Regions from separate parts of the Homo sapiens genome. Here regions 1, 2, 3, 4, 5 and 7 are each linked to region 6. The links come from fine-mapping of genetic effects on gene expression. A gene starts in region 6. Each other region holds a variant in brackets. All regions are shown on one strand. Distances are between the middles of the regions. Region 1 overlaps UVSSA (UV stimulated scaffold protein A). Region 2 has its middle 16 kb from the start of NKX1-1. Region 3 has its middle 120 kb from the start of FAM53A. Region 4 overlaps MAEA (macrophage erythroblast attacher, E3 ubiquitin ligase). Region 5 overlaps UVSSA (UV stimulated scaffold protein A). Region 6 holds the start of UVSSA (UV stimulated scaffold protein A). Region 7 has its middle 8.9 kb from the start of MAEA.

Region 1 (4,065 bases), 40 kb before region 6:
CAGCCTTCACTGGTAAATTCCACCAAATGTTTAAATAATTAACAACAATCTTTCACAAACTCTTCCAAAAAATAGGAGGGGAGGGAACACTTCCCACCTCAATCTATGAGGTCAGTAGTGACGTGACTAAAGCTAAAGACATCACAAAAAGACTACAGCCCAATATCCCTCATGAATACAGATGCAAAATCCTAGCAAACCAAAGCCAGCAGCATAGAAAAAGGATTATACACCATGAACAAGTAGAATTTGCCCCATGAATGCAAGGTCGGTTCAATATATGAGAAACAATGTAATATACTGTATCACTATAATAAAGGACAAGAATCATACTATCATCTCGACAGATGGAGAAAAAGCATCTGACAAAATTCAATACTTTATGACAAAAACACTCAACAAACTAGGAGGAGAAGGTAACTTTTTCAACCTGATAGAAGCATCTACACAAAACTGCATTGTTAGCATCACATTCAATGGTGAGAGACCGAAAGCTTCCCGCTAAGATCAAGAGTAAGACGAGGATGTCTGTTCTCACCACATCTATTCAACATTGTCCTGGAGGTACTAGCCAGAGCAATTAGGTAAGAGAAATAAAAGAAATCCAGATTAGAAAGAAAGCTGTTTGCAGATGACATGATTTTGTGTATGGAAAATCTTAGGGAACATACAACTAATTAGAATGAATAAACAAGTTCAGCAAGGAATGCTGGATACAAGATCAATACACAAAAGTCAGTTGTACTTCCACATATTAGCAATGATCAGCCCCAAAGTGAAATTTGGAAAACAATTACATTTGTGATTGCTTTTGTAAATGCAATTTATAATCTTTTAATAATTTATAATTGCATTTATAGTCCTTTTGGTTATAAATCAAAAATAATAAAATATGAGTAAATTTAACAAAATAAGTGAGAAACTTATATACTGAAAACTACAAAATACTGTTGAAATAAATTTAAAAAGACCCAAATAAATGGAAAGATAATCAGAAGCTCATGACTCAGAAGATTTAATATTAAGACGGTAATACATTCCAAAGCAATCTCTAGATTTAATGTAATTCCTATCAAAAATCTCAGCTGCTTTTTTTTTTTTTTTGAAGAAACTGATGAGTGGATCCTAAAATTCATTTGGAAATGCAAGAGATGCAGAAGAGTCAAAACAGCCTTGAAGCAGAACAAAGTAAAACTTCTCACAACAAAGCAGCACTGATCAAGGCACTGTGGCACTGGCATAAGGTTAAACAGGTCAATGGAATAGAGTCAAGTGCCCAGAAATAAGCCTGTACATTTTTGGTCAACTGATTATCAATAATGGTGCGAAGATAATTCAATGGGGAAAAATAATGTTTTCAACAAATGGTGCTGGGACAACTGGATATCCACATGCAAAAGAATGTGGGCTCTTACACCACACACAAAACTTAATTCACAATGGATCAAAGATCTACACATAAGAGCTGAAATTATAAAATGCTTATTAGAAACTAGGTGTAAATCTCTGTGATCTTGGATTAGGTGATGGCTTCTGAAATGTGACAGCAAAAGCATAAGCAACAAAAGAAAAAAACAGATAAATTGCTGTACTTCATCAAAATTAACTTTTGTGCTTCAGAGGACACTATCCAGAAAGTGAAACAACAGTATGGAAGAAAGTTTTTGCAAATCAGCTGAGTGCGGTGGCTCACACCTGTAATCCCAGCACTATGGGAGGCCGAGGTGGGTGGATCACGAGGTCAAGAGATCAAGACCATCCCAGCCAACACAGTGAAATCCCGTCTCTACTAAAAATACAAAAATTAGCTGGGCGTGGTGGTGCGCGCCTGTAGTCCCAGCTACTCAGGACGCTGACGCAGGCGAATCGCTTGAACCCAGGAGGTGGTAGTTGCAGTGAGCCGAGATCACGCCATTGCACTCCAGCCTGGCGACAGAGCAAGATTCCATTTCAAAAATAAATAAATAAATAAATAAAGTTTTTGCAAA[T/C]CACATGAGGATCTAGTATCCACAGTATACATATAAACTCCTGGCCAGGAGTGGTGGCTCATGCCTGTAATCCCAACACTTTGGGAGACCGAAGCAGGAGGATCGCTTGAGGCTAGGAGTTCGAGATCACCGTGGGCAACACAGTGAGACCTCATCTCTACAAAAAATTTAAAAAATTAGCCAGGTGTTGTGGTGTGTGCCTGTAGTCCCAGCTACCTGGGAGGCTGACGTGGAAGGATGGCTTGAGCCCAGGAGTTTGAGGCTGCACTGAGCTATGATTCTGCCACTGCACTCAGCCTGGGTAAGAGCAAAAGCCCATCTCTAAAAGGAAAAACAAAAAAAACAACTGTTACAACTCAAGATAAATCATTCAATTAAAAATAGGCAAGAGGTTTGAATAGACTCCTCTCCAAAGGAGATACACAAATGGCCAGTAAGCCCACGAGAAGATGTTCGGTATCCTTCTCCAATGCTGCTGTGAACATGGGTGCACAAGCTTCCGCATGGACAGGTTTTCACCTCCTTTGTTTTATACATTGGAGGGGAACTGCATGGATAAACCTTAAAAACAACGCCAAGTGTAAGAAGCCAGGGACAAGAGGACACATGTATGAAAAGGCACATCCAGAAACAGAAAGCAGATGACTGAACGGTTCACTAGCCTTTGTGTTTGTGTTAAAAACAGCATTTGCACAAAAGTGGGTTTCCCAGAGTTCCTCTGAGTGGTCGCCTCCTGGCTGGGGAATGCACGCTCTGAAGGCTGAGCTGCACACACATTCCGTCCGTGCTGAACCCCACACCACGACAAGCACTGGTCTCACGAGGACTCGCAGAAGCCCTCTGGAACAGGGTCGCTGCCTGTGTTCACATCTCCAGGCCCGAGGGCCTCTTCTGCGAGGCCAGACCCATCACCAGACGATGCCGAACCCTGTAGCAGCAGAGCGGCCGTACCTTCAGGGCATTGCAACACACCATTTCTTTACATCAAACACAGTAATAGACAAAGCATGGTTACTGCCCAGACCCACGCCCACTCTGCTGTCCTGAGACACTGGCAGAGGGAGAAAGTGCTGATGGCCAGTGCACTGGGCCCCGCTCTCTAGTTCAGTGCGTAGTTAAACTGGTTTGAAAACTTCTCGTGCTTCTTCTGGTCCATCCGGTTCATGGCTGCCACTACCCTCCGCACAGCTGCCCTGTGGGGAAACAAGGCAAGATGTGACCTGGGAGGCTTCCGCCAGGGGCCTGGGCTCCCAGTGGCGGCATCACCAAAGTTAGGCACTGGTCCTGGGGCAACTGCTGCCCTCGGACACTGACAGACTGCCTGTGGGTGCCACCTTCAGAGACAGATGGGCGACGGGCCCCTTGGCCCTGGCCCGAGACAGACAGGCTTAGAAAGGGCCGCCCCAGGTCCCAGAAGCGGAGTCTGCGGCGGGTGGTTCTGCGCGGTGAAGGTGGCCCCAGCCCCACCTTGGCACTTCTCCCGTGGCCTCCCGCACTCCAGGATGAGGGCAGCCTCCCCCTTGGCCTCCCGGGGAGCGGCCTCGCAGGAGATGCAGCCAGGAGGCGTCAGGACAGCCCTGCCCGCTGCTGCACGCACGGCTCCACGGCCAGGGCTGGAAACCTGGAGGGCTGCAGCAGGGGGGGCACGGGCCAGGCAGGCATTCCGGGGAGCAGGATGAGGTGTGCTGTGCTGACCAGCTCAGCTGCTGCGACCCACGAGGGTGTGGAGCTGTGGAGCCAGCAGGGCCTGAGGCCACAATGTGGTGAAGCTGCCGCTCAGCTGCGGCCCCTGTGGGGCTGCCAGGCGCTGCTGTGGGGGCCCCTCGAGGCAGGGTTTTGCCTGTGGTCACCCCAGATCCTTTCTGTAGGGAGGGGTCTGGGCCACACAGCTGTGGCGAAGAGCCAGCTCCTGCCATGGGCTTCAGTGTCCCCATGAGACACAGGGAGGAGGCCTGGCATGGGCCCACTGGCCATTCCTCCTCCTGGGCATCAGCACCAAGGCTGGCCTCTGCCCCTGGCTGATCCACGGGAAAACAGCCTCACCCTGAGCTCCAAGGGCTAAGGTGCCTTGGGTGGC
Region 2 (4,074 bases), 75 kb before region 6:
AAAAAGAGAGCTACCATACGACTCACCAATCCCACTGCTGAGGACACACCCCAAAGAAAGGAAATCAGGTTACCGAAGAGATACCTGCCCTTCCATGCTTGTTCCAGTACTGTTCACAACAGAAAGATTTGGAAGCATCCTAAGTGTCCACCAGGAGATGAATGGATAAAGAAAACGTGGTACTTACACACAATTCTGTCATAAAAAAGAATGAGATCCATGGCCAGGCGCCATGGCTCATGCCTGTAATCCCTGCAATTTGGGCAGCTGAGGTGGGGAGATCACCTGAGGTCAGGAGTTTGAGACCAGCCTGGCCAACATAGTGAAACCCCGTCTCTACTAAAAATACAAAAATTAGCAAGGCGTGGTGGTGCACGCCTGTAGTCCCAGCTACTCAGGAGGCTGAGACAGGAAAATGGCTTGAACCAGGTGGCAGAGGTTGCAGCGAGCTGAGATTGTACCATTACACTCCAGCCTCGGTGACAAAGAGAGACTCCATCTCAAAAAAAAAAAAAAAAAAAAGAATGAGATCCTGTCATTTGCAACAACATGGATGGAACTGGAGGTCATTGTGTTAAGTGAAATAAGCCAGGCATAGAAAGACAAATTTTGCTTGTTCTTACTTATTTGTGGGAGATAACAATGAAAACAACTGGACTCAGAGAGAGTAGAAGGATGGTTCCCAGAGGCTGGAAGGGTGGTGGGGGTGGGAGTACGGCTAATGGGCACAAAGGGCAGGTAGAAAGAATGAATAAGACCTAGTATTTGATAGCACAACAGGGTCACTGTAGTTAATAACAATTTAATTGTACATTTAAAGATACCTAAAAGAGGCCGGGCGCGGTGGCTCACGCCTGTAATCCCAGCACTTTGGGAGGCCGAGGCGGGTGGATCACGAGGTCAGGAGATCGTGACCATCCTGGCTAACACGGTGAAGCCCCGTCTCTACTAAAAATACAAAAAATTAGCCGGGCGTGGTGGCGGGCGCCTGTAGTCCCAGCTACTCGGGAGGCTGAGGCAGGAGAATGGCATGAACCCCAGGGGGTGGAGCTTGCAGTGAGCCGAGATCGCGCCACTGCACTCCAGCCCGGGCGACAGTGAGACTCTGCCTCAAAAAAAATAAATAAATAAAATAAAGATACCTAAAAGAGTATAATCGGATTGTTTGTAACACAAAGGATAAATGCTTGAGGGGACGGATGTCCCATTCTCCATGATGTGATTTTTATGCTTTGCGCGCCTGTATCAAAGTATCTCATGTACCCCATAAATATACACACATACTCTGTACCCACAAAATTAAACTCAAACACAGTTATGTTAAATGTCAGTAATCTAAACATACCCAATTAAAAGGCAGAGATTGTTACAGTGAATTTTAAAAAATATCCATCCCACTACATGCTGGCTACACAGAACCCACTTTATATATGACTATATTTGTAAATTAAAAGTTAAAGGATAAAAGAGATATACCAGGGAAATGTTCATCAAAAGAAAGCTGGAATGGCTACAATATCTGATAAAGTCAACTTCAGAACGAGAAAAATTATTAGGGGTAAACAGACATTACATAATGACAAAAGGGTCAATTCACCAAGAAGACATAAAAACCTAAACGTGTATTGCC[C/T]TCATAACAGACCTTTAACTGAAAGGAAAAGTAACAGACTCACAACTCTAGCTGGGGCCTCAACAGTCCTCTCAGTATCAACAGAACAATTAGGTAGATAAGGAGGGAGGATACAGGAGAACAATACCATCAGCCAACAATTTCTAAATGACATTTACAGCATCTGCCATCCAACAGCAGCAGGACACACGTTCTTGTCATGTACACATGGAACTCTCCAGAGAAACCATATCCTGGCTTATAAAACAAAACTAACAGATTTAGAAGAATTAAAATTATGTAAAGCATGTTCTTTGACAATAGTGGGTTTAAACTGGAAATGAATGACCTAAAGATACCTTTAAAACCCCAGAGGCTGAGAAATTAACAATTACACTTGTAAGTAATCCATGGATCAAAGAAGTTCTCCTAGAAGAAATTAGAAAGCATTCTGGACTAAATACAAATGAAAATTTAAAATATCAAAATTTTTGGTATGCAGTTAGAGCAGCTCTTAGAGGGAAATTTTTAGCAATAAATGCTTATATTAGAACATCTCATTGACAACCTAAGCTTCTAATTTAGGTAACTAGACAAACAAGAGCCAAAGAAAACCAAAGCAATCAGAGGAAAGAATAGTAAAGATAAAACCGACGTCAGTGGAATTAAAAACAGATAACCAGGTGCAGTGGCTCATGCCTGTAATCCCAGCACTTTGGGAGGCTGAGGTGGGCGGATCACTTGAGGTCAGGAGTTTGAGATTAGCCTGGCCAACATGCAGAAACCCCGTCTCTATTAAAAATACAAAAGTTAGCCAGGTGTGGTGACACATGCCTGTAATCCCAGCTACTTGGGGGTCTGAGGCAGAAGAATCACTTGAACCTGGGAGACAGAGGCAGTGAGCTGAGATGGCGCCACTACACTCCAGCCTGGGTGACAGAGCGAGACTCCATCTCAAAAAACATAAGTAAATAAAATGTTAAGAAAAATAGAAACAAAAATATTAGATAAAATCAATGGAATCAGAAGCTGGTTCTTTGGAAAAGTCAATAAAAATAGGTAAAACTGATAAAGAAAGAGAAGATACAAGTGACCCATTACAGGCATAACAGAGGGGCTGTCACTGCAGAGCCCACAGGCATTGTAAGGATAACAAAGGAGCATTCCATGCACGGATTCAGCACCTCAGATGACTGGACCAATTGGAAATCCACAAACTACCAAGACTCACTCAAGAAGAACTAATAACCTGAACAGCCCTATCTCCACTAAAGCAGTTGAATCCATAGTTAATAACCTCCCAAAAAAGAAAACTCCAGGTCCAGATAAATTCACTGGTGAATCTTACGAAATATTTAAACATAAAAATAACTCCAATTCTATACAAAACTTAATCAAAAAATAGAGGTGGAAGTGACACTTTCTATTTTATTTTATTTTTTTCTCTTTTTTTTGAGTTGGAGTCTTGCTCTGTCGCCCAGGCTGGAGTGCAGTGGCGCGATCTCGGCTCACTGCAAGCTCCACCTCCCAGGTTCAGGCCATTCTCCTGCCTCAGCCTCCCGACTAGCTGGGACTACAGGCGCCCGCCATCATGCCCGGCTAATTTTCTGTATTTTTAGTAGAGACGGGGTTTCACCATGTTAGCCAGGATGGTTTCGATCTCCTGGCCTCGTGATCCACTCGCCTCAGCCTCCCAAAGTGCTGGGATTACAGGCATGTGCCACCATGCCCGGCTGGAAGTGACACTTTCAACTCATTTCGCAGGGCCAGAATTCCCCTAATACCAACACCAAAGTCATCACAAGAAAAGAAACTACAGGACAAAACCTCTCAGGCACATAGATGTGGAAATCTTCAACAAAACACTAGCGATCAAATCCAGAAACATGGAAAGCATGAGCACATGATGGCCAAGTGGGGTTTACCCTGAGAACACAAGGCTGTTCAACAGAGAACGCCAGCCATCACAATCCACCATGTCAACAGACGCAACGAGAGAAGCCATATGAGCCTATGGATACGGAAAAAAAATGTGATAAAATGCAACATCTGTTAATGATTTTACAAATTTCTCAGAAAATTAAGAATAGGAAGGAACTTCCTTAACCTGGAGCTATTATAAAATGTTTTTGAATTTTTAGGATTTAATCACTGATCGTGGGTATATAGAAATTAGATTGACCTTTTTCAGGCTTTTTCTCTGACCTTGCTGACTTATGAATTCTGGGTGCTTTTTCCTTGGGATTTTCTACGTAGATAATCATGTCGTCTGTATGCAGGGCTAGTTTTATTTTTTCTGTTTCAATATGTTTACATTTTATTTCTTTTTCTTGCCTGAAATATTTACAGGTGAAGCAACTTAATGTCTGAAGGTATATTTTAAGATTCCAGAATAAAGGTGTGGCTTTGGATACACAAAACCATATTGACACCAAAATGTTGACAGATGTTGCATCTGAGTGACA
Region 3 (4,074 bases), 220 kb before region 6:
CTCGTGGGGGTGCCAGACGAGGACCCAGCTGCTCTGTTGCTAGGCACAGGGCCCTGGCCTTCACTGCACGGCCGGCACCGAGCCCAATGCCAGGCACATGGAGGGTGCTCAGCCCACCCTGGCCGGGCCACTTCCTTTGTCCCCTCTGGATCCCTGTGTTTGTTGAGTGGCTGAATGACCCACTCTGTGTGATGTCTGAGGACTGAGCCACCCCTCTGGCTAAACACTGTCCGCACACTTCCAGGCGTGAGTTAGGAATTCCGTGCCCTTGCACCCTCTTCCTACCCAGGGTCAACCCCCCTCACAGCCCCACAGGTGTCCAGAACCCAAAGTTCTGTGGCCTAAGGAACCCCGCTAGATAAGCCAGGAGCTAACATCCCCGCCTCTCAGTGTCAGGAGCCCCTGGAGTGGGGTTGTGAGCACCAGGCAGATCTGCTGAGGATCTGAGCGGATTCCTCAGCCAGGTGCATCTACCGGCATCTGCCAGCCACAAGCCAGCCATGCGCCCCCTACGCGGGTGTCTCAGAGGTGGCGTGAGCCCCAGACAACGCCCTGGAGCTGGGCTGTGTCCAGGGTTCTGCCTCCCCCATGGCATGTTGCCTGCAACTTCATTTCTGCCCCAAAGTCTCCCCAAGAAAAGCGTGTTACTAATGCCATTGCGCTGCTGTATGAAGCCGGGGGTCTGGGGGTCCTTGGGGTGGGTGAATCTGGCCTCCCGGCTGCCATGGTTTCGGCTCCACAAAGGGCTCCCACCTCGGTATTCTGCTGCCCCACCCTTCCTCCCCCACAGGCAAGGACAGGGCAAGAGGGGTCACCCTGCACAGGCGGAGTGCTCAGTGCTGCCGTCTGGCCCTGCCGCTGGTTCTGGCCTTGCTCTCCTTGCACAACAGGCCCAGCCTCTCTTCATGGGCCTTCTCTTGCCTTTGCCCACACACCCCTGGGATCCAGGGTCGTCTGAGCCAAAAGGCCTTCGAGGTCATCCAAGGTCATCCAGGTCGTCCTGGACCACGGCACCCCAAACTCCCCTGAGCTCCCCAGAGGGCTGCCCAGCCTCTCAGAAGCACAGAGAGCAGCCTGCTGCAGCCCACTCCACATCCTGCAGACTCAGAGCCAGAGGCCGGAGAGACCAGGCGGGCTGTGGGGAGCTGGGCCCTGCCCGGTGCCCTGCAGGCTCCCCAGGACATACTGCCCTTGGCTGCCTACAGACCCACGGCCACACAGGAGCCCCAGGACCAACCAGCTCAGCCTACCAGAGACCTCGAAGCCGGGACAGCAGCTTGCCGGGCCTGTGCCGGGAGGGTCTGCCCGGGACTGCCGTCCATGTTCCGGCTGCGTGCTGCGGCCCACAGCCCCCATGGGGCTCCTGGGAAAGCCTGCCCCGGTGGCTCCACGGCTCTCCCAGCCTCTGGAGGACCCGAGGGCCTGGCGTTTCTCATGCCCCTCAGAGCTGGGTGCGCCGTGGGCGTTGTCAGGCAGCTGGAAAATTGAAGGGCTCGCGGGGCGCCCTGGGAAGTGCGTGGCCGCTCCCTTCTCTTTCGTCCATTTCCCCTCAAACAACTTCCCGGGAAATGGACGCGGATGCTTCTGACAGTGGATGATGGATGGTGCCGCAGAGCCTGCCCAGGAGAGCGCCGCGGGGCTGCGGGTCGGAGGCGGCGCGGGTGGGAGGCGGCGCGGGTGGAGTGGGGTGGGAGGTGGCGCGGGTGGGGTGGGGTGGGAGGCGGTGCGGGTGGGGTGGGTGGGAGGCGGCGCGGGTGGGGTGGGTGGGAGGCGGCGCGGGTGGGGTGGGGTGGGCGGGCCGCCCCAGGCTGTCTGTGGGCTGCATGGGAGAGGGTGGAGTTGGGATGGGGGCGCTGCTGGAGGAAGGACCCGCAGAATGAACTGTGCAGTCGTGGGGAGTGGGCCCTCCGGACACTCGCTGTGGGGACATCCCTGGCTGGCTTGGACCCTGCCCCATTCTCCAGCTGAGACCCAGCCCGCCCATCACCTCGCCGGGCCTCGGCTTCCTCATCTGTAAAATGGGCCTGTGCTTGCCCTGC[A/C]CCGTGGCGGCGTGAGCTCCAGGAGGTGCTGCTGGGCCGGAGCCTGGTGCACAGAAGGGAGCTCCCGCGGGTGGTGTGCTGGTCGCTGGGAGGCCTCAGGGTGTGCGGGCCCGGCCTGCCCCGGCTGGGAGACTTCCACCTTAAGGTGTGAGGAGCCCTCCGTGGCCGAGTTCTCCTCCGCCCCCGCCGCCCTGGTGACAAATACTAATGTCTAAATCAGCAGCCGCAGGCCGCCGCCTGCCGTGTTCTTTGCTGAAATGTCACCTGTTCCTATCTAACGATTTGCATAATGCAAACCTTCTCACTCGTAAAATACAGATTAAGAGGGGAAGCCGGAGTCATTCTGGAACCAGGGAGCCATTTCAAAGGGAACGAGGAGGGAGGCCTGGGAGGCGCCGTGCTCTTAACCCCGTCCCTGCCGGCCCTGCCTGCACCTCCACAGCCGGTCTGGCCTAACACACTGGGGCCGAGCTGGGGTCAAGGTTGATCCCATGATGCTGGGCGGGTCCAAGCTGTGGAAGGGCGGGGCGTGCTGCCCAGCCCTTCCCCTGGTCGCACGTGTGGACGGCTGTGTCCCCCATCCCCTTGCACCTTCCACCCATGTGTGGAGGGGAGGCTGGAGGGGCCGGGGGCCCTGGGCTGGGGCTGCTCCTGGTAGGTCCTTGGGGGCCTTTCGGGCTGTCCTGGCCCCAGGTGTTTTAACGATGTGGCCTCAGGCCGAGGAGGGACCCCGAGCCCAAGTCATGATTAGGGGTTTCTCCAGCCCCCCAAATCTGGCTGGGTGTGTGGTCTCAGCAAAGGGGGAGCAGGTGCTGAGGAGAGAGGAGATCCCAGGACTCTGCTGGGCACAGGGGGCGTGGCCAGGGCCACCCCTTCAGCCTGGGTTGTGGGGCCATGGCCAGCTTCTGGGCCGGAGGAGGGGGCAGAGGTCCTGAAAGTCCCTGGTGGGGGATGGCGGGGGACAGGGCTGCTGCAGGGGGTGGGAGGGGAGCTCAGAGGATGGGGCCTCTCTTCCGGCAGGAGGCGAGGCTGCTCCCCGCCCTGCGCAGCGAGGAGTGGGTGGGCCTCACGCAGCCCCAGGTCCTTCATGCTGCAAAGCCAGCACCCGCCCGCCGGTCCTGGACCTTGCCCCCTCCCTCTCTCCCTCCACTGGTCTGCCCTCCACCAGTACCGGGTACCACCAGCCCTGCTCCTCCAGCTGCCCTGGGAGGGTCTGGGCTCTGGCAGGGTGCTGGGGAAAGGGCTGCACACATCTGCAGATCTGAGCCCGCAGGGTGGGATGCTGTGAAGCCTGGGACTGCAGCGGAGTGAAGGTAGAGCCTGAGCGGCACCAAGGACAGGGAGGCCCCGATGACTCAAGGGTCAGGAGGAGAGGCGAGAGAGCCGAGGCTGCAGCTGATGTGGAAGGGCAGTGGGTGCCTGACCTGACGGGGGTGGGGGGACCCCCTGGCCCAGCCCCTGCTCCAGGAGGGTCACAAGGGAGGGGCTGACTTACAGGCCTTCCCTGTGGAGAAGAAGAGAGACCTGGGGCTGGACCTCCCCAGGAGCCCCCCTCTGTGACTCCACCCAAAGGGAGCCCCGCTCACCTGGAGCTACACCCAACCTGTGACTCCCGCCAAAGCCACACCCACCTGAAGCCACACCCACCCGGAGCCACACCCACCCAGAACCACACCCACCTGTGACTCAACCCATATTCCCGCTCACCTGGAGCTACACCCAACCTGTGACTCCCGCCAAAGCCACACCCACCTGAAGCCACACCCACCCGGAGCCACACCCACCCAGAACCACACCCACCTGTGACTCAACCCATATTCCCGCTCACCTGGAGCTACACCCAACCTGTGACTCCCGCCAAAGCCACACCCACCCGAGCCCCACCCACCTGGAACCACACCCACCTGTGACTCCAGCCATATTCCCGCCCACCTGGAGCCCCGCCCCACCCAGAGCCCAGTCCACCGGGAATGCTGTTGGTGGGAGCCTTGCCCCTCTGCCTGCCCTGCAGCTTTCCTCTGATCATGGTCCTGGG
Region 4 (4,074 bases), 49 kb after region 6:
GGCTGGCGGTGATATAGAGGGTGGCGACTGGGTTTCGTGCACTTACTGTATGCCCCGTTATTGTGCTGACTTTCTCAATGGTTACATTTACTTCTATTTCAATTCTTACTGCTTTAGACAGAATTGCCAAAATAATATTTAATATTATTTTGTTCATTTGTTAATTGGAGAATTTATTTCTTCTCTATCCTTCAAAAGAGCTTATAATCCCAGTGGTCAGAAACAAGCAAAATACCGTTATGTGAGACAGCGGTCACGACTCACGAGGGAAAAGGGCAGAAGTGGGAGATGCTGGGGCTGCAGTTTCAACAGTGGAGTCAGAGAAGCTTCACAAGCTGACAGCTCAGCGAAGATTGAAGGAGGTGAGGACATGGGACCACGGACGTTGGCAAAGATTGAAGGTGAGGACATGGGACCATGGACATCTGTGGAAGGAGCGCTCCAGACAGAGGAAGGTGGCAGTAAAACCCTGGGCTCGGCATGCTGGCCTGGCTGAATGGCGGCAGAAAGGCCACTGGGCCCAGCACCCTACAGGGCAAAGGGCCTGGGAGCCACTGTAACGACCCTGGCCTTCATCCCCAGGTCAGGAAACTCCTAGAACAAAAAGACGACAGGATCTGGCGCTGGGGCAGCCGGGGTGGGCATGAGCAGAGCAGGAGCAGCCAGAAGGCTATTCAATATTCCAGAGAGAGATGCGACTTGAGCCGCAGGGGCAGAGGTGGGAAGAGCAGCAGCAGCTGGGCCTGGGCATGTCCTGACGCCAGGGTGGAGGGGCAGACGGGCTGGGCATGAGCTGTGACAACAGAGGCATCAAGGCCAACCTGAAGGTTCTGGCCTGACCAAGGGAGATGGAGGGGCTGCCCTTCCCGAAGAGAAGGGAGACTGGTAGAATTGGTTTGGGCAGCAGGTGTTAAGATGATAAGCTCAGATCTAAATATGCCAAGGAGCTGGGCATGGTGGCTCACACCTGTTATTCCAACACTTTTGGACGCCCAGGAGGGAGGAATGCTTGAGCCCAAGAGATGGAGACCAGCCTAGACAACGGAGCTAGAACCTATCTCTACAAATAAAAAAATTAGCCAGACACGGAAGCAGGCGCCCGTGGTCCCAGTTACCCGGGAGGCTGAGGCAGGAAGATCACCTGAGCCCAGGAGGTCAAGGCTGAAGTGAGCTGTGATCATGCCACTGCACTCCCGCCTGGGTGCCAGAGTGAGATCCCATCTCTAAAAATAATAATAATTTTAATAATAATAATTTTAATGCCAAAGTGCCTTGCCAAGTGGGTATGTTTTACAGGCTACTGGATACAGGGCTCTGGGGTTGGGAAGATACCTGCCTGGGAGTCATCAGTATACACAGAGGGTCCTATCAGTCCACTAGACCCTGTGAGAGCACCAAGGCAGCGGTGCTCACAGCAACACCCAGGGCCAAGGACTGAGCCCGGGGGGAAACGCGAGGATGGCGCTCTAGGAGCCCGAGGGGGTGAGCTGTGTTCCAGCCCTGTGAGAGGTCGAGATGGGCAGCAAGAATCCATCATGGGTCTCAGCAGTGTCTTGGGGTTACCTGGTGCCCTGACTATAGCACTGTGATGGGGGTAAAACCAGATGAGAAGCAATTCCAGAGACCCCAAGGCAGGGCTGGCTCAGACAGAGGGGACCTGTGGGTCCCGCACACAGTTAACCAGAAGACGGCGCGTGTGCCTCTTCGTGGATAACCAGAAGACGGCGCGTGTGCCTCTTCGTGGATAACCAGAAGACGGCGCGTGTGCCTCTTCGTGGATAACCAGAAGACGGCACATGCCTCTTCAGGTCACAGGGATGGGGCAGGGGGTCTGGTGCATGAACAAAGGCTGGCCTTGGGCGGGGCACAAATGACATATCTCCAGTAAAAGAAAGGAAACAGTGAGCACAAGCAGGCAGGCGACAGACAGGGCCAAGCCGCGGGCAGAGCACAAGGACGGGGCAGGCATGGGGGGCTCATGGAGAAGGAGGGGCATATGGAACAGTACCTGGGGTACAGGGTGCTAAAATGCCTCAAGAAGCATGGCTATGCTGCCAGGCAGTACTCGACACCCACTCCAGGCAGCAACCGGGTTCCTCAGCAGATAGGTGCGGCTTCTGTGGCCAGTGCAGGGGCCTTGCACAGCGGGGTTTCCATGCTGGAATGTTCTAGAACAATGGGAAGCAGAGAAGGGCAGGGGATGGGGCTACATCGCGAGGGGTGGAGGCAAGGGAGAAAGGAAACGCAAGAGGCTGACCACAGCCAGATGAGAGCACAGGCCATGAGACCAAGACATACTCTAGAATGCGGCAAGTGGACAAAAGTGAGATGCGAAGTTTAGGAATTTCCCAGACAGA[C/T]GGGGGAGAAATTGGTTCGGCCAACAGCCATTGACTGACTCCTGTGCCAGGCACTCGTGGGTGTGACGTGAACGACGACAAAGGACGGCCCGTGCCCTCGCAGAGCAGACGCTCTAAAGGAGACGCCCAACCAAAGCACAGAGAGATGCAGGCGACCGCGTCAGACTGTGACGAGTGCTGCAAAGGAAACCAGGCAGGCAAGGGACAAAGGGCAAAAGGAACCACATCCTAATTTTATTTAGGGCAGCAATGAGCCCACACTCAAGCGCGTGCTCTCTCTCTATATGTATGTATACACACACACATACGCACGTACTTTTTCAGGCTCCTCCAAAGCTAGAAATGGCCAGCCCCGTGCTCTGGGGAATGAGCTGAAGTGTAAACGCTTGGGAGGATGTCCACTAAGGCCCCCACGCAGGGAGCTGGCCACGCAGGGCGGCACTGATTCCCCCTTACCCTCCTCCTGGCCGCGAAGGCCGCAGCCCCAGCAGCCATCGTGGACTCAAGGATAAACGTGAGAAACAGAAATCGAGAAAACCTCCGAGTTCTCGGCTGTCACTGAACAAGTGCCGGGGGACATCGCTGTCAACTGACTTGGGAAGGGTGGCTTAGTAAGGCAGGTCTGGGGCTCGTCTGGGGCCCCAAGGCCGAGATGCGGCATTTGGTTTTGCGCCTGGTATCGTATCTTTGAACTGCCTTCCAGACATGCGAAGAGAGCTCCGGGAGGTGACTACACGGGATGGCCTCAGGGAGAGAGGCCTGGGGAGGGCAGCAGTGTGGGGACAGGAGCTTGGAGACCGTCTGTGAAGCCACACAACCTCTGGAGGGCTGGCTGGTGACATAAAACAAAAGGCCTCCAAGACTAGAGAAGACAGCATAGGCAAGTGAGGACATGCAGCGAGGGGTGGGGAGAGCCCAGAGGATGGTGTCACGGGAGCCGAGTGATGGGAGCGTCTCGAGGCAGTGGGGTCCGCTGTGGACTGACCGCTTTCAGGAGCATCATCCTGTCCTCAAGAGGAACATCTGGGTGGAGTGTTGGGGGGCAAAAATCTGATTTAGGTAAAACAGGAAGAGAGACATGAAGGGGCAGAGACAGGGAGTAGTAGCTGGAGGAGGACGGGGGCAAGGAAGGGGTTTTCACGAGAGGAAGACTCAGAGCCACGTGCACACCAGGGAGCTGCACAGCCAATGGGAAAACCGACCAACAGAGAGAGAACCAAGTGCAGGAGCAGCCACAAGGCAAAGGGCACAGCACAGGTGAGGGGGGCACAGCGCAAGTGAGGGAGGCACAGGCACGGGTGAGGGGGGCACAGGCACGGGTGAGGAACGGCACAGGCATGGGTGAGGGGTACAGGTGAGGAATGGCATGGGTGACGGCTGCACAGGCACAGGTGAGGGGGGCACAGGTGCGGGTGGGGGGGCACAGGTGAGGGTAGCATAGGTGAGGTGCAGATGTAGGTGGGGGGCGCACGTGAAGGTGGTGCAGGAGCAGGTGAGGGAGGAGCAGGTGAGGGAGGAGCAGGTGAGGGGGGCACAGGCACAGGTGGGGGGCACAGGTGAGGGCAGCACAGGTGAGGGCAGTGCAGACGTGGGTGAGGGGGGCACAGGTGCGGGTGGGGGGGCACAGGTGAGGGTAGCATAGGTGAGGTGCAGATGTAGGTGGGGGGCGCACGTGAAGGTGGTGCAGGAGCAGGTGAGGGAGGAGCAGGTGAGGGAG
Region 5 (4,000 bases), 32 kb before region 6:
CAGTGAGTCCCAGGCTGTGCCTCCCACGGTGACCGCCTTGCCCAGACCTACCCGGGCGCTCCTGCTTCTGCAGCTGCCGCCGCTGCTCACGAGCCCTGTCTTCCGGGTCGAGCGGCCGTCCTTCGTCGTCCCGTGGAACAATCTTCCCATGGAAAGGGCACTGCACAGCGAGGACACGGTGGCTGATGGCGGGGAGGGGTCCGCTTGCCTTGACCACCTCCCCCCACCACCACGACTTGGGCACAAACAGCGACCAGGGTGGGTGGTATCACAGAGCCAAAGTGTACACAACCTGGAATCACGCGCCCCTCAGAGGAGGGCGTCCTGAGAGCCACAGGGACGTGGGGATGGCTCCGTCCCTCCTCTGGAGCCGGAAGGTCTTGGGCAGCTGTGGAAAGTCTAGGCCTCCCTCATCCAGCATGGCCATAGCGACCCCCCTGCACCATGCCCAGCTGCCCGGCTGGGAGCTGCCCTGGCCCCCTGGCCTCTCCTCACTTTTGAGGATCCCAGGCCCAGCACAGACCCGGGCTGCAACCATGGAGGATACTGTGTGTCTTGGCCCCTGGAGAGTCCCCAAGCCATGTACCCAGGTGTCAGGCTTCAGGGCCGTGGGCAGGAGCCCCAGACACCATGCTCTGATGGCCAACGGCTAAGCAATTTCTGCCCACCACGGATAAGCCCCTTCCATGGGCTTCTCAGTGCTCACAAGCACCCTGACCCAGGGCAGGGGCAGGTGGGGCTCAGCACCCCTCTGGCTGCCCCACCTGGTCCAGCCCACACCCACCCCCGCCCTCGGGCCACGGCCTCACCTTCAGCCGGTCTTGGCGCTCACAGAGCCGGCCGTCTGGCCTCGGGGCACGGCACCAGTGCTGCACAGGCTCAAACTTCCCGGCAAAAGTGATGTGGCGGCTCCGGAGCATCTCGGAGATGTCGGCATTGACCACTTCCTCCTCCACCTCGCTGGGCTTCCAGAAGCGGTGCTGGGAGTCAGACCTGCAGACACAGCCAGAGGCCCTCATAGCATCTGCAGGGACCCCAGAAGAGCGTGGCCACGGTGGTGCAGGCACAGGGGAAGGCCAAACACCACTGCAGCCCAGCCACCCCAACACTGTGGACAGCACCCAGGGAGAACACGGTCACTCCCGGCTGGGTCTGAATTCTGACGCCACATGAACCAGCCGCGCGACCACGGGCACGACCGCCTGCGTCTGAATTCTGATGCCACGTGAACCAGCCGCGCGACCACGGGCACGACCGCCTGCGTCTGAATTCTGACGCCACGTGAACCAGCCGCGCGACCACGGGCACGACTGCCACCTGCAAGATGGGCTCTCCCTATAGGACAAGGGCGACAGCTGCTGCGTCCTTGAGGCGTGACCTTGAAGGCCAACGGGGCATCCACATGAAGGTCGTCCTTCCACTGCAGGGACGTAAGGACAGGGCGGTAGCACACCCAGGAGAAGGAGTGAAGGCCGTTCAGCCCTTGGCAGCACAGAGGGGCCGGGTGCTGGAGACCAGACTCCACTGCCCCAGGCGTCCCAGGTCTCCCAGGCGTCCCAGGTGCGTCCGCTCCCACGCTCTGCTGTTGTCATCAACCTGGTTAGGGACGCTTTCCGGCGGATGCCATGGGATGGGGGGGCTGGGTGTGCCGGCCAAGAGGAGGCCGGCCTCAGAGGACTCCACCCCCTGCCCACCTGGATGCCCAGGCAGGGGAGAAGTGTCTGAGGGGCCCTCACACAGACCAGACTGCCCCTGTGCTGCCACCAGGCCTCCTTCTAGGACACACAGCCACAGTTGGGGCCAGCAGGAGCTGGGGAGGACAGATGGGCAGTGCCAAGGGCTCCCAGTGATGAGAGGCTGCTCATTGCCTGCTGACTGGGGAACGGTC[G/A]GCTCTGCCCGAAGCTCCCGGGCTCCCACACCCTGTGCCTGAGGATGCTGGAGGAGCAGAGCCCAGCAGCCCCGCCCTCACCCCAGGTCCACAGACAGGAGCACAGCCCCAGGCACGGCCCACGCTAGGGAGAAGGGACCAGCAGTAGGCCCTGCCCTGGGGCCGCCTGGACCTCATTTCTGCATCCACCTTGGTCTGGGATGAGGCTGGTTTGGGATAAGGCAGTGGGTGGGAACGCAGGCAGAATGTGCTGCCCAGGGCCTTGGCCCCACTACAGGCAGAGGCGTCTCGGGCAAAGCCCTGGTGGGCTGAAGAGCACCTGGCCATGTGCCCCGCAGTCAAGGAGGTACATGCGGCTCCCCCGAGGGTGCCTGACCGCCCGGCCAAATGCTTCCTGCTGCACCCAAGGCCCCGTGGGAGAAGCAGCGATGCATTCTGCCACCCGGAACTCGGACCAGAGACGCCCCGTGGATCGCAGTGAGAACACTCAGGAGCCGGCGCACAGCAGCCACACCACGGGCTCCACCGCTTCCTCCCCGTCCAGGTGCAGGGATGCTTCCCTCTACTCCCCTCGGCCGAGGACCACTGGCTATTTTTTTTTCAGACAGACTCTTGCTCTGTTGCCCAGGCTGGAGTGTGATGGTGCGATCTCAGCTCACTGCAAACTCCGCCTCCTGGGTTCAAGCGATTCTCCCGCCTCAGTCTCGAGTAGCTGGGATTACAGGCGCACGCCACCACGCCCGGCTAATTTTTATATTTTTAGTAGTGATGGGGTTTTGTCATGTTGGCCAGGCTGGTCTCGAACTCCTGGCCTCAAGTGATCCACCTGCCTTGGCCTCCCAAAGTGCTGGGATTACAGGCGTGAGCCACTGTACCCAGCCAGGGCCCGCCAGCCCTCTGTGTACCAGGACGGCTTTGTTCTAGTGGTTGCCTGTGGCCGCCACCCCCATCAGCCCTGTCTCCCACCACGGCCTGGCCAGGCCCTGGCTTCCCGGACCCGCATCATCTTGACCTCCTGGATGAAAGGGGCGAGCCCAGGCTCTCCGAGATCCCTAAATGTGGCTGAGAGCCAGAGGGCAGGACCCCTCCACTTGGTGAGGGAATGTGGGGTGAGCAGCCCCTGCCATCCTGGCTAGGGGCCAGCCAGGAGGAGTGTGGCCCTCAACTGGCTGTGGGGCACATGTGGCACCCAGGTGCCATCTCCTGCACCAGCCCATGTACCCCCATCCACGCAGCTGACATGGGGCCCTTCCCCAGCCCGGGCCGCTGCCATGTGTAGGCTGCAACTCCATCAAGCCGACCACAGCAGTGTGCAGGCAGTTGGGGGAAACATGAAGCCGTGAGCTCGATGCACCAGGTGCGTGGTGCTGACGGGCCAGGCAGGTGGAACGTGAAGCCAGGCCTGCCCAGCAGGGCCCCGGTGCCATCCAGGACTAACCGGGTCCTCACCAGCAGCTGCTCAGGCCTCTCTCTCAGCCCAACTGCCTGGGGGCTCAGGGCAAAGCCTGTGGTCCTGGGGACGGGCCAGGCAGGTGGGAGGAGGGACGGGCATCCGCTTCTCGGTGGGAGCTTTGCTGGGCGTCACCTCCCAGGCTCAGAAACCAAGCACTGGCCTTGGGGCACCCCTGGTGGCAATGTGTGACAGGGACAGCTGTTTCTTCCCGACCTCTCCGGCCGCTGAGCAGCCTGCCCAGCCCCTCCCTCCTCACACTGTCCCTAATCTGGCCCCCACTAGGGGCGGTGTCTGTGGAGCCCTGAGGACGGGGCCCTCAAATCTCAGTCCTGCTGTGAGTGAGACCAGGGCCTGCCTCGCTTACCATCCTGCTCTCGTGTGTCGTGTGTGAGCCCAGCAGAACCCCGGGAACACAGGCAGCTGTGGACAATGTGCCAGGACGTCCCGGCACTCGGGGCCCGTTCCTGGGCATCCAGACACAGAGGCAGTGGCTGCCCTGGGCACACGGTGCTCCTCAGGCCCTGAAGCTGCCCCAGGACCCTTGCCCGGCTCCCCTGCCCCCCCGCTCTCTGGAGGTTCTGACATCAGCCCCTCACACGGATGAGACGCTCCCGCATCACGCCCCGCAGACCCCGCAGCATTGGCTTTAGTGGTTACGG
Region 6 (4,061 bases):
CAAAAAATACTTGGTGAAATGTGAAAATCATATACACTTCAAATGTCGGTGTTCATTCACAAAGTGTCATTGGAACGTCGCCCATCTATCCACCTACATCATCTACAGCTGTGTTCACAACTGAGGCATTACAGCAAAGCCTGAAACACAAACCATCTGGCTCTTTAAACACACGTTACCTAGCGCAACACACACCGCCCGGCACAAACGCCCACCGCCCGGCACAAACGCCAACCGCCCGGCACAAACACACACCGCCTGGCACAAACCGCACACCGCCCGGCACAACGCACACCGCCCGGCACAAACACACACCGCCTGGCACAACGCACACCGCCCAGCACGCACACTGTTTCAGCTGGGTGCCTCCTGCTGCAGGAAGGAAGGAAGGCCTAGAGCTCGGGACATCTCCCAGCCCCTCCTGAATGCTCCTATTCCCAGCTCCTGACCCCACATAAACCATTGCGAATTCGATTTCCTGGCGCAGGCCACAAAACCTGACCTGAAATTTTCTATCAAAATGTCAACACTCCATCACTGTATAAACAATCTATAAACTGCCATTTTACAAACACAGGATACAGAATAATCAGTGTCCTCGACTTATGCTCCACCCTCCGAGGGGAAGTTTTGCTTCCCCCATGAATCTCTGGCTGCCTGAGGGTGACGGCAGAGATCCCCTCCGGCGTTTTCCTTGGAGGAAGTGAACAGAGGTGGACATACCCTAAAGGCGATGGACCAACTCGCCCATCAGCAAGCTCTATTCTTTCCCTTCGAAAAGTCCAGCAGCAAAGAAAAAGATGCACGTTTCTCTCTGAATCACATTTGTGCACTCAAGAACTCCTACAGGATGTGCTCCAGACCACACAAATGGGAATGAAGAGAAGCACCAACCACAGAGCAGTGGGGTCCCCAACGCCACACGCCCCGACCCCAGAACATGACCACCCGTCAGAGCCGGGTACTGCAGGGCCCCGAGAAAATGTCCTGGGTGTGTCCCTCGGGTGGTTCTCTCCCAGGTGGGGGCAGGAGGGCAGGGCCCTGTGTGTGTCCTGGGCTCAGTGGGCCAGTCAGTTACTGTTACTGAACCCTAAGACATACTTGCAAATTTTCTTCAGTTCCTTCATTTTCTCAGGATTTAGTCGGGGTTCTCCTGAAGTTGTGAGCTCTTCTACCAACTTCGAAAGTTTCTGATCCATATCTAGAAATAAGTAAGGCAGAGATGCTATATCACCATCTGTATTTTATAGCTCTCGGTGTTATTAACGTGTTTACTGGGTTCCACTATAAACCGAAAGCTCCGGGAGGACCCTGAGGCTGGGGTCCATCTGTGGGTGCCTCTCTGGGAAATATGTGTGTCCAGCAAGGCCTTTACGGCGGTGATTGCAGTTTTAAAAGTGAACCTTAAACTCGGGACCTCTACAATCCCGTGTGTGGGACGCTGCATTGAGGGTCGTGCGTTAAAGGAACCAGTGGCGCTGTCCGAATCAGCTTTTCCCCAACGTGACTGTTGCTGTTTCCCTTATTCACTCAGATTCCGCAGGGCAGCCTCCAGCAAGGCTGCAGAGGCCAAGAGGAGCCAAGAAATTCTGAGACCAATGAAAAGTCGCGTCCGGAGAGCAGGGGCGGCCCTAACGGAGGCAGCCTGCCCGGATACCCAGGGCCGAGCACCGCGGCGTGCCTGGTGGGATGAGGCGAGGGCCTGCCGCACCGCCAGGGAAAGGCCGAAGGACCCGGAAGGAAGCGCCAGGCGAGGCCGGGGCGGAGGCTGGGAAGCTGCGCCCTACTCGGGGAAAGAAGGGGCCCGGCAGGGCCACGCGAGGCTTGGACCGCGGGGTCGCTCTCGCACAGCGGCTGCACCGGGCGGGCGCGCCGGCTTCGACGGTGCTCGGGGGGCTGCGGCCTGTCACTCGGCCCAGGGCCCGCCCTCCGGCCCCGCCGCCGGCGCTCTCGGGCACACGGGACACGCCCTGGCCGCAGGTCTCTGCCCGGCGCCCGCAGAGCCCCGGGGACCGAACCGGCGCGACCCCCGCCCGGCAGCGTAACCACAGCCCCACCTACCGCTGACGCGGCCGCTCGCCTCGCCCCGCCCCTTCCGGCGGGGGGACCGCCCCTCTTGTCAGGTGCCCAAGACCTCTACCGCCATTGGCTGGCCCTGGGCCGGACGCATCAGGACCTGGGGTCACCACAGCGACGACTGCACCTACCGCTCGACGCGGCCTTTCTCGCCGTTGCCCCACCCTTTCCGGTCAAGGCCCCGCCCCCTAGCACGTGCCCTGAGCTCGACAGCCAATGGCTCACCCCAGCCCAGGAGGCGCAGGCGCAAAGACGCGGCCGAGGTCTGCGCGGTGACGTAGGCGCGCTCCCGGCGAGGGCGAGGCAGGCTGCCGGGGGTGGGGAGGGGGACGCACGAGAAAAAAGAGGCGGGAGGGCGCAGAAAGTCCTTAAAGGGGCCGCATGTACGGGCGCCGGGGGCGGGGCCGGCCGGGAAACTGAGGCCGAAAGGAAGTTCCGGTCTGGGCCTCAACGCCACGCCCGCCCGCGGGCTCGCAGCCAGGTCCCTTCACCTGCAGAGGGCCGGTGAGGACCGCCCAGACGGGCGGGCGCGGGCCCCCGCCCCCGAGCTCGCCCCGCGCAGGGCGCCCTGAACCCCGCGGCGCCTCCCCGCTCCGGCCTCGGGAAGGGAATCCCTGGGCGGGCTTGGGGGTCTTCGGGGCCCACCTCGGCGCCAGACGCACAGCAGGTACCCCTGGGCCCGGGCTGGCCCTGGGCGGAATGAGAAGCAGAGGCGCCGTCCGTCCTGCCGCCGAAGTCCGCAGCCTCGAACGCAGGGGAGTGCGAGGTCGGCTGCGGACGGACGGACCTGGAGACCGCGCTTGGGAAACCGTGGCTTCGGAGGAGCGTGGTGTGGACCCCACTCGCGGGGCGCCCGGCACAGGCCACGCAGAGCAGACGCCCGACTGGGCTCCCGGGGCTGGGTGCAGGGCGGGGGCCGCCGGCGGCGGGCCGGGGTTTCTTTTTCGGGGGGATGGGCGTGCCCTTGCATTACGGTGGTGGTAGCTCACAACTCTGTTAATCGTGTTTTTACAGGGTGGGTTTCAGGATGTGTGAGTTATATCTCAGTAAAGCAATTATTTTAAAAAGGAAAAGAAGAGGGACTCCCTGCGCCGCCCCTCTCTGCAGCACCAGCTTCTGTCCCTGGGCGTCAGTGGCTCCCAGCTCCTAGCTTGCAGCCAGCCCCGAGCCGCTCCTCCGCCTCACCCCTTCCTCACCCTGCCTCTTGCTTCACTGAGCAAGCTGCAGCCAGACCCTCCCTCAGCGCCCCTTGCCCTGTGCATCCAATCCCCGGCCTGTGGCTTCCTCCAAGGCACCCATCCAGCAGTTTCCCTCTGTCTTCTACAGCGTGGTTTTTTTTGTTGTTACTAGTTCTCATTAGTATAAAAGGGTGCCGTTTCTCCCATACTAACAAAACCCTCTCTTTATCCAACTTTTCTTACCAATTGCTAAGTCCAGTCTCCTTTACACTGCCCCGGGGTGTCCTCTCAGCCCTCAGGCTCAACAGCACAGCCAAGCTGCCCGTCCACTGCCCTCTGTATCCGCTGATGGCCCTGCAGCCTTTTTTTTTTTTTTTTTTTTTTTTTTTTTTGAGACAAAGTCTCGCTTTGTCACCCAGGCTGGAGTGCAGTGGCACGATCGCGGTTCACTGCAGCCTCCGCCTCCCGGGTTCAAACGATTCTCCTGCCTCAGCCTCCCGAGTAGCTGGGATGACAGTCACCCGCCACCACGCCCAGCTCATTTTTGAATTTTTAGTAGAGACGGGGTTTCACCATGTTGGTCAGGCTGGTCTCGAACTCCTGACTTCAGGTGATCCGCCCGCCTCGGCCTCCCAAAGTGCTGGGATTACAGGCGTGAGCCACCGTGCCTGGGCCACCGTGCCTGGGCCTGCCCTGCATCCTTCTGTTCGCTTGGACCAATTATCTGACTCACTTGGGCTTCTCTCTTCCTCTCACTCCATGCCCATTTGGTTTGCAAATCCTGACAGCCCTACCTTCAGAACACAT
Region 7 (4,074 bases), 66 kb after region 6:
ACTGGTACAGCCGTCACTACTGTACATGTCCACCCACCATTCCCACAGTTAACCAGTACAGCCGTCACTAATGTACACGACCACCGTTCTGTTAACCGGTACGGCCGTCACTAATGTACACGCCCACCCGCTGTTCCCACGGTTAACCAGTACAGCCATCACTACTGTACACACCCACCCACCGTTCCCACAGTTAACCAGTACAGCCATCACTAATGTACACGCCCACCCACCATTCTCACTGTTAACCTGTACGGCCATCACTAATGTACACGCCCACCCACCGTTCCCACTGTTAACCGGTACAGCCGTCACTAAAATACACGCCCACCCACCGTTCTCACTGTTAACCGGTACGGCCGTCACTAATGTACACGCCCACCCACCGTGTGTGAGAGCTCCCTTTCCTCAGCATCTTCAGCAGCATCTGTTATTTTTTGTCTCTCTAATAAGAGCCCGTGTAACTGGGGTAAGATGACGTCTCGTCGTGGTGGTGACTTGCCCTTCCCCGATGCTTAGAGGTGCTGAGCATTGTTTCATACACCTGTTGGCTGTTTGTCTGTCTTCTTTTGAGATATGTTTATTCCCAAAATAGACATTTCTATTTTGGGGGCTAAAAGTGCCCTCAGGCCACTTTCTAGTGGGATTTTTTTTTTTATTGTTGCTTGAGTTCCTTGTATACTCTGGATTTTAGTCCCCTGTTGGATGAATAGTTTGCAAATATTTTCTCCCATTCAACAGGTCGTCTCCACCCTCTGTTGACTGTTTCCATCATAGTGGGTTTTTTTGGGTTTTTTTTGAGATGGAGTCTTGCTCTGTCGCCCAGGCTGGAGTGCAGTGGCACAATCTCAGCTCACTGCAGCCTCTGCATCATGGCATTTATTTTATTTTATTTTATCTTATTTATTTATTTTTTGAGTTGGAGTCTCACTCTGTCGCCAGGCTGGAGTGCAGTGGCGTGCTCTCGGCTCACGGCAACCTCTGCCTCCCGGATTCAAGTGATTCTCCTGCCTCAGCCTCCCGAGTAGCTGGGATTACAGGCGCCCACCACCACACCCGGCTAATTTTTGTTTTTTTGTTTTGTTTTGTTTTTAGTAGAGATGGGGTTTCACCATGTTGGTCAGGATGGTCTCAATCTCTTGACCGTGTGATCCACCCACCTCAGCCTCCCAAAGTGCTGGGATTACAGGCGTGAGTCACCGCGCCTGGCCCACATCATGGCATTTTTAAAATTCATCATTTAATGTCATTCTAAGTAAAGAAAAATAAGCAGTTATTCACACGAATTGTAGTGTTCATCGTCACCTAACGCTAGTTTTATTTTTTATTTTTATTTTTATTTATTATTATTATTTTTGAGACGGAGTCTTGCTCTGTCACCCAGGCTGGAGTGCAATGGTGCAATCGTGGCTCACTGCACCCTCCACCTCCTGGGTTCAGGCGATTCTTCTGCCTCAGCCTCCTGAGTAGCTGGGACTACAGGCGCCCGCCAACTATGCCCGGCTAATTTTTGTATTTTTAGTAGAGA[G/C]GGGGTTTCACCCGTGTTAGCCAGGATGGTCTTGATCTCCTGACCTTGTGATCCGCCCGCCTCAGCCTCCCAAAGTGCTGGGATTACAGGCGCGAGCCACCGCACCCAGCCTGTCCAACGCCAGTTTTAAGTGCAAACATAAGCAAATCATAGTGTTCACCATCATTTGTCTGACGCCAGTTTTAAATGCAAACGTAAGTGCTTTAGTTCGAACTCTGCGTCACCAAACTCACGAGGCCTGTGCTTCCCAGCTCGATTGCACAGACCTGTTTTGTTCTTCTTCATGGAGTGCTGCATGAAGCTAATGCAGCTGTGATTTCATTTCTGATGTGCACATATTTTACCAATGCCCTCTACTTTTACTGACAAGTAAGGGGTGTCTGGAGGGAAAAGGAACTGTGGGTTGCCTCATCTTTCCTCCTGTCCACCATGTTCAGCACACGCAGTTCTAACGTGAGGAAGTCCCATGCGTAAGAAGTACATGATGGGGTATGTGTTTCTTGGCACTCCCCTGTTTCTTTTGTGTTTATAGCATGTTCTGGTTCAAACAGAAGGCATGGCCTCTCTGGACTTTGGGGCCACTGCTCACTCCGTCCTGGATGTGACACCCTCACTTGCACCCACTGGAAACCTTGCTGTCCTTCCACACCTCATGGACCCCTCAGAATTCTGTGTTCGTGGGGAACTACCCATGCTCTATGCAGCTGGGGTGCCGGGAACAGGTGCAGATGGGATGTCTCTCACCGTTGACCATCTTGTATATGCAAGATTTGGGGTTTTTTTGAGACAGAGTCTCGCACTTTTGCCAAGGCTGGAGTGCAGTGGTGCAATCTCTGCTCACTGCAAACTCTGTCTCCTGGGTTCAAGCAGTTCTCCTGTCTCAGCCTCCTGAGTAGCTGGGATTGCAAGCACACGCAGTTCTGATGTGAGGAAGTCCCATGCGTAAGAAGTACATGATGGGGTATGTGTTTCTTAGCACTCCCGTTTCTTCTGTGTTTATGGCATGTTCTGGTTCAAACAGAAGGCATGGCCTCTCTGGGCTTTGGGGCCCCTGCTCACTCCGTCCTGGATGTGACACCCTTACTTGTATTTACTGGAAACCTTGCTGCCCTTCCACACCTCGTGGACCCCTCAGAATTCTGTGTTCGTAGGGCACTACCCATGTGCACCACCACACCTGGCTAATTTTTGTATTTTTAGTAGAGACAAGGTTTCACCATGTTGATCAGGCTGGTGTCAAACTCCTGACCTCAAGTGATCCACCCGCTTTGGCCTCCCAAAGTGCTGGGATTAGAGGTGTGAGCCGCCTTGCCCGGCCGTATCTGCAGATTTGTTTCTTGAATTAAATTGGGAAAAGTTCCAGTTACGATTTCTTTTTTTTAATTTTAATTTATTATACTTTAAGTTCTGGGGTACATGTGCACAACATGCAGGTTTGTTACATATGTATACATGTGCCATGTTGGTGTGCTGCACCCATTAACTCGTCATTTACATTAGGTATATCTCCTAATGCTATCCCTGCCCCATCCCCCTCACCCCACGACAGGCCCCGGTGTGTGATGTTCCCCACCCTGTGTCCAAGTGATCTCATTGTTCAATTCCCACCTATGAGTGAGAACACATGGTGTTTGGTTTTCTGTCCTTGCGATAGTTTGCTCAGAATGATGGTTTCCAGCTTCATCCACGCGTCCCTACAAAGGACATGAACTCATCCTTTTTTATGTCAGCCACGATTTCTTTAATGATCTTTTCCTGCCCCATTCACTCTTGCTTCTCCTCCTGGGATGCCAATTACGTAAAGGTTGGACAGTTGGACACTGTGGTCTCCGTGGCGGTGCCACAGGACGGCAGGGCTCAGTCACGGCAAGCTGGGAGGAGCTGAGAGCCAACTCCTGTGCTCAGTGTGTCTGTTGGGCTCAGACACACAGGGAGCCAGAGATTTTGCGTAGACATGTGAGGAGAACTGCTGAGCACACTTCACACGGCAGAGCTCCTGAGCCGCGACCCTGGCGGGGTTGTGAGGAACAAGAGAGGATAGCCAACAAGATGGAGAGGAGATGGTGCTGGGCCATCCACACTAACCTGGCAGGAACTGGAGACCTGCTGGGGTGGTTGTACTAAACAGAACAGAGAAGGCAAGAAGAATGCAGTGCTGCACGGCCCCTGCACATCAGCATGGATGCTCCCAACGGGCAGAGCTCACAGAACGCAAGGATGCAGCCCTTGACCAGGGAGGAGCGAGGACGCAGAGGACCAGGGAGGAGCGAGGACGCAGAGGACCAGGGAGGAGCGAGGACGCAGAGGACCAGGGAGGAGCGAGGACGCAGAGGACCAGGGAGGAGCGAGGACGCAGAGGACCAGGGAGGAGCGAGGACGCAGAGGACCAGGGAGGAGCGAGGACGCAGAGGACCAGGGAGGAGCGAGGACGCAGAGGACCAGGGAGGAGCGAGGACGCAGAGGACCAGGGAGGAGCGAGGACGCAGAGGACCAGGGAGGAGCGAGGACGCAGAGGACCAGGGAGGAGCGAGGACGCAGAGGACCAG

The links.
Region 1: its variant is fine-mapped to the expression of UVSSA in thyroid (GTEx, PIP above 0.99). The same link has a PIP of 0.9 or more in testis.
Region 2: its variant is fine-mapped to the expression of UVSSA in transverse colon (GTEx, PIP above 0.99).
Region 3: its variant is fine-mapped to the expression of UVSSA in substantia nigra (GTEx, PIP 0.98).
Region 4: its variant is fine-mapped to the expression of UVSSA in whole blood (TOPMed, PIP above 0.99).
Region 5: its variant is fine-mapped to the expression of UVSSA in whole blood (TOPMed, PIP above 0.99).
Region 7: its variant is fine-mapped to the expression of UVSSA in whole blood (TOPMed, PIP above 0.99).

Annotation. Positions count from the first base shown.
Region 1 is chr4:1,384,984-1,389,048 of GRCh38, reverse strand. UVSSA (UV stimulated scaffold protein A) reads right to left here. Exons shown (of 14, transcript NM_020894.4): 14 at 1,000-3,181. The coding sequence ends at 3,088. Among named protein-coding and RNA genes, the nearest start is that of NKX1-1, 19 kb to the left of the region's middle. The variant T/C (reference allele first, on the strand shown) is at 1,989.
Region 2 is chr4:1,420,583-1,424,656 of GRCh38, reverse strand. No RefSeq gene overlaps it. Among named protein-coding and RNA genes, the nearest start is that of NKX1-1, 16 kb to the right of the region's middle. The variant C/T (reference allele first, on the strand shown) is at 1,631.
Region 3 is chr4:1,566,382-1,570,455 of GRCh38, reverse strand. No RefSeq gene overlaps it. Among named protein-coding and RNA genes, the nearest start is that of FAM53A, 120 kb to the left of the region's middle. RefSeq lists enhancers at 1,618-2,435, 2,436-3,254, 3,255-4,072. The variant A/C (reference allele first, on the strand shown) is at 2,040.
Region 4 is chr4:1,296,050-1,300,123 of GRCh38, reverse strand. All of the region lies in intron 1 of MAEA (macrophage erythroblast attacher, E3 ubiquitin ligase), which reads right to left. Among named protein-coding and RNA genes, the nearest start is that of MAEA, 8.2 kb to the right of the region's middle. RefSeq lists an enhancer at 2,114-2,827. The variant C/T (reference allele first, on the strand shown) is at 2,358.
Region 5 is chr4:1,377,040-1,381,039 of GRCh38, reverse strand. It overlaps UVSSA (UV stimulated scaffold protein A), which reads right to left. Exons shown (of 14, transcript NM_020894.4): 11 at 810-993; 12 at 52-160. Among named protein-coding and RNA genes, the nearest start is that of NKX1-1, 27 kb to the left of the region's middle. The variant G/A (reference allele first, on the strand shown) is at 1,889.
Region 6 is chr4:1,345,230-1,349,290 of GRCh38, reverse strand. It overlaps UVSSA (UV stimulated scaffold protein A), which reads right to left and starts at 2,083. Exons shown (of 14, transcript NM_020894.4): 1 at 1,531-2,083; 2 at 1,102-1,201. The coding sequence starts at 1,199. RefSeq lists enhancers at 1,395-1,474, 3,320-3,842, 3,843-4,061 and silencers at 1,705-2,144, 2,385-2,714, 2,935-3,024.
Region 7 is chr4:1,278,974-1,283,047 of GRCh38, reverse strand. No RefSeq gene overlaps it. Among named protein-coding and RNA genes, the nearest start is that of MAEA, 8.9 kb to the left of the region's middle. The variant G/C (reference allele first, on the strand shown) is at 1,529.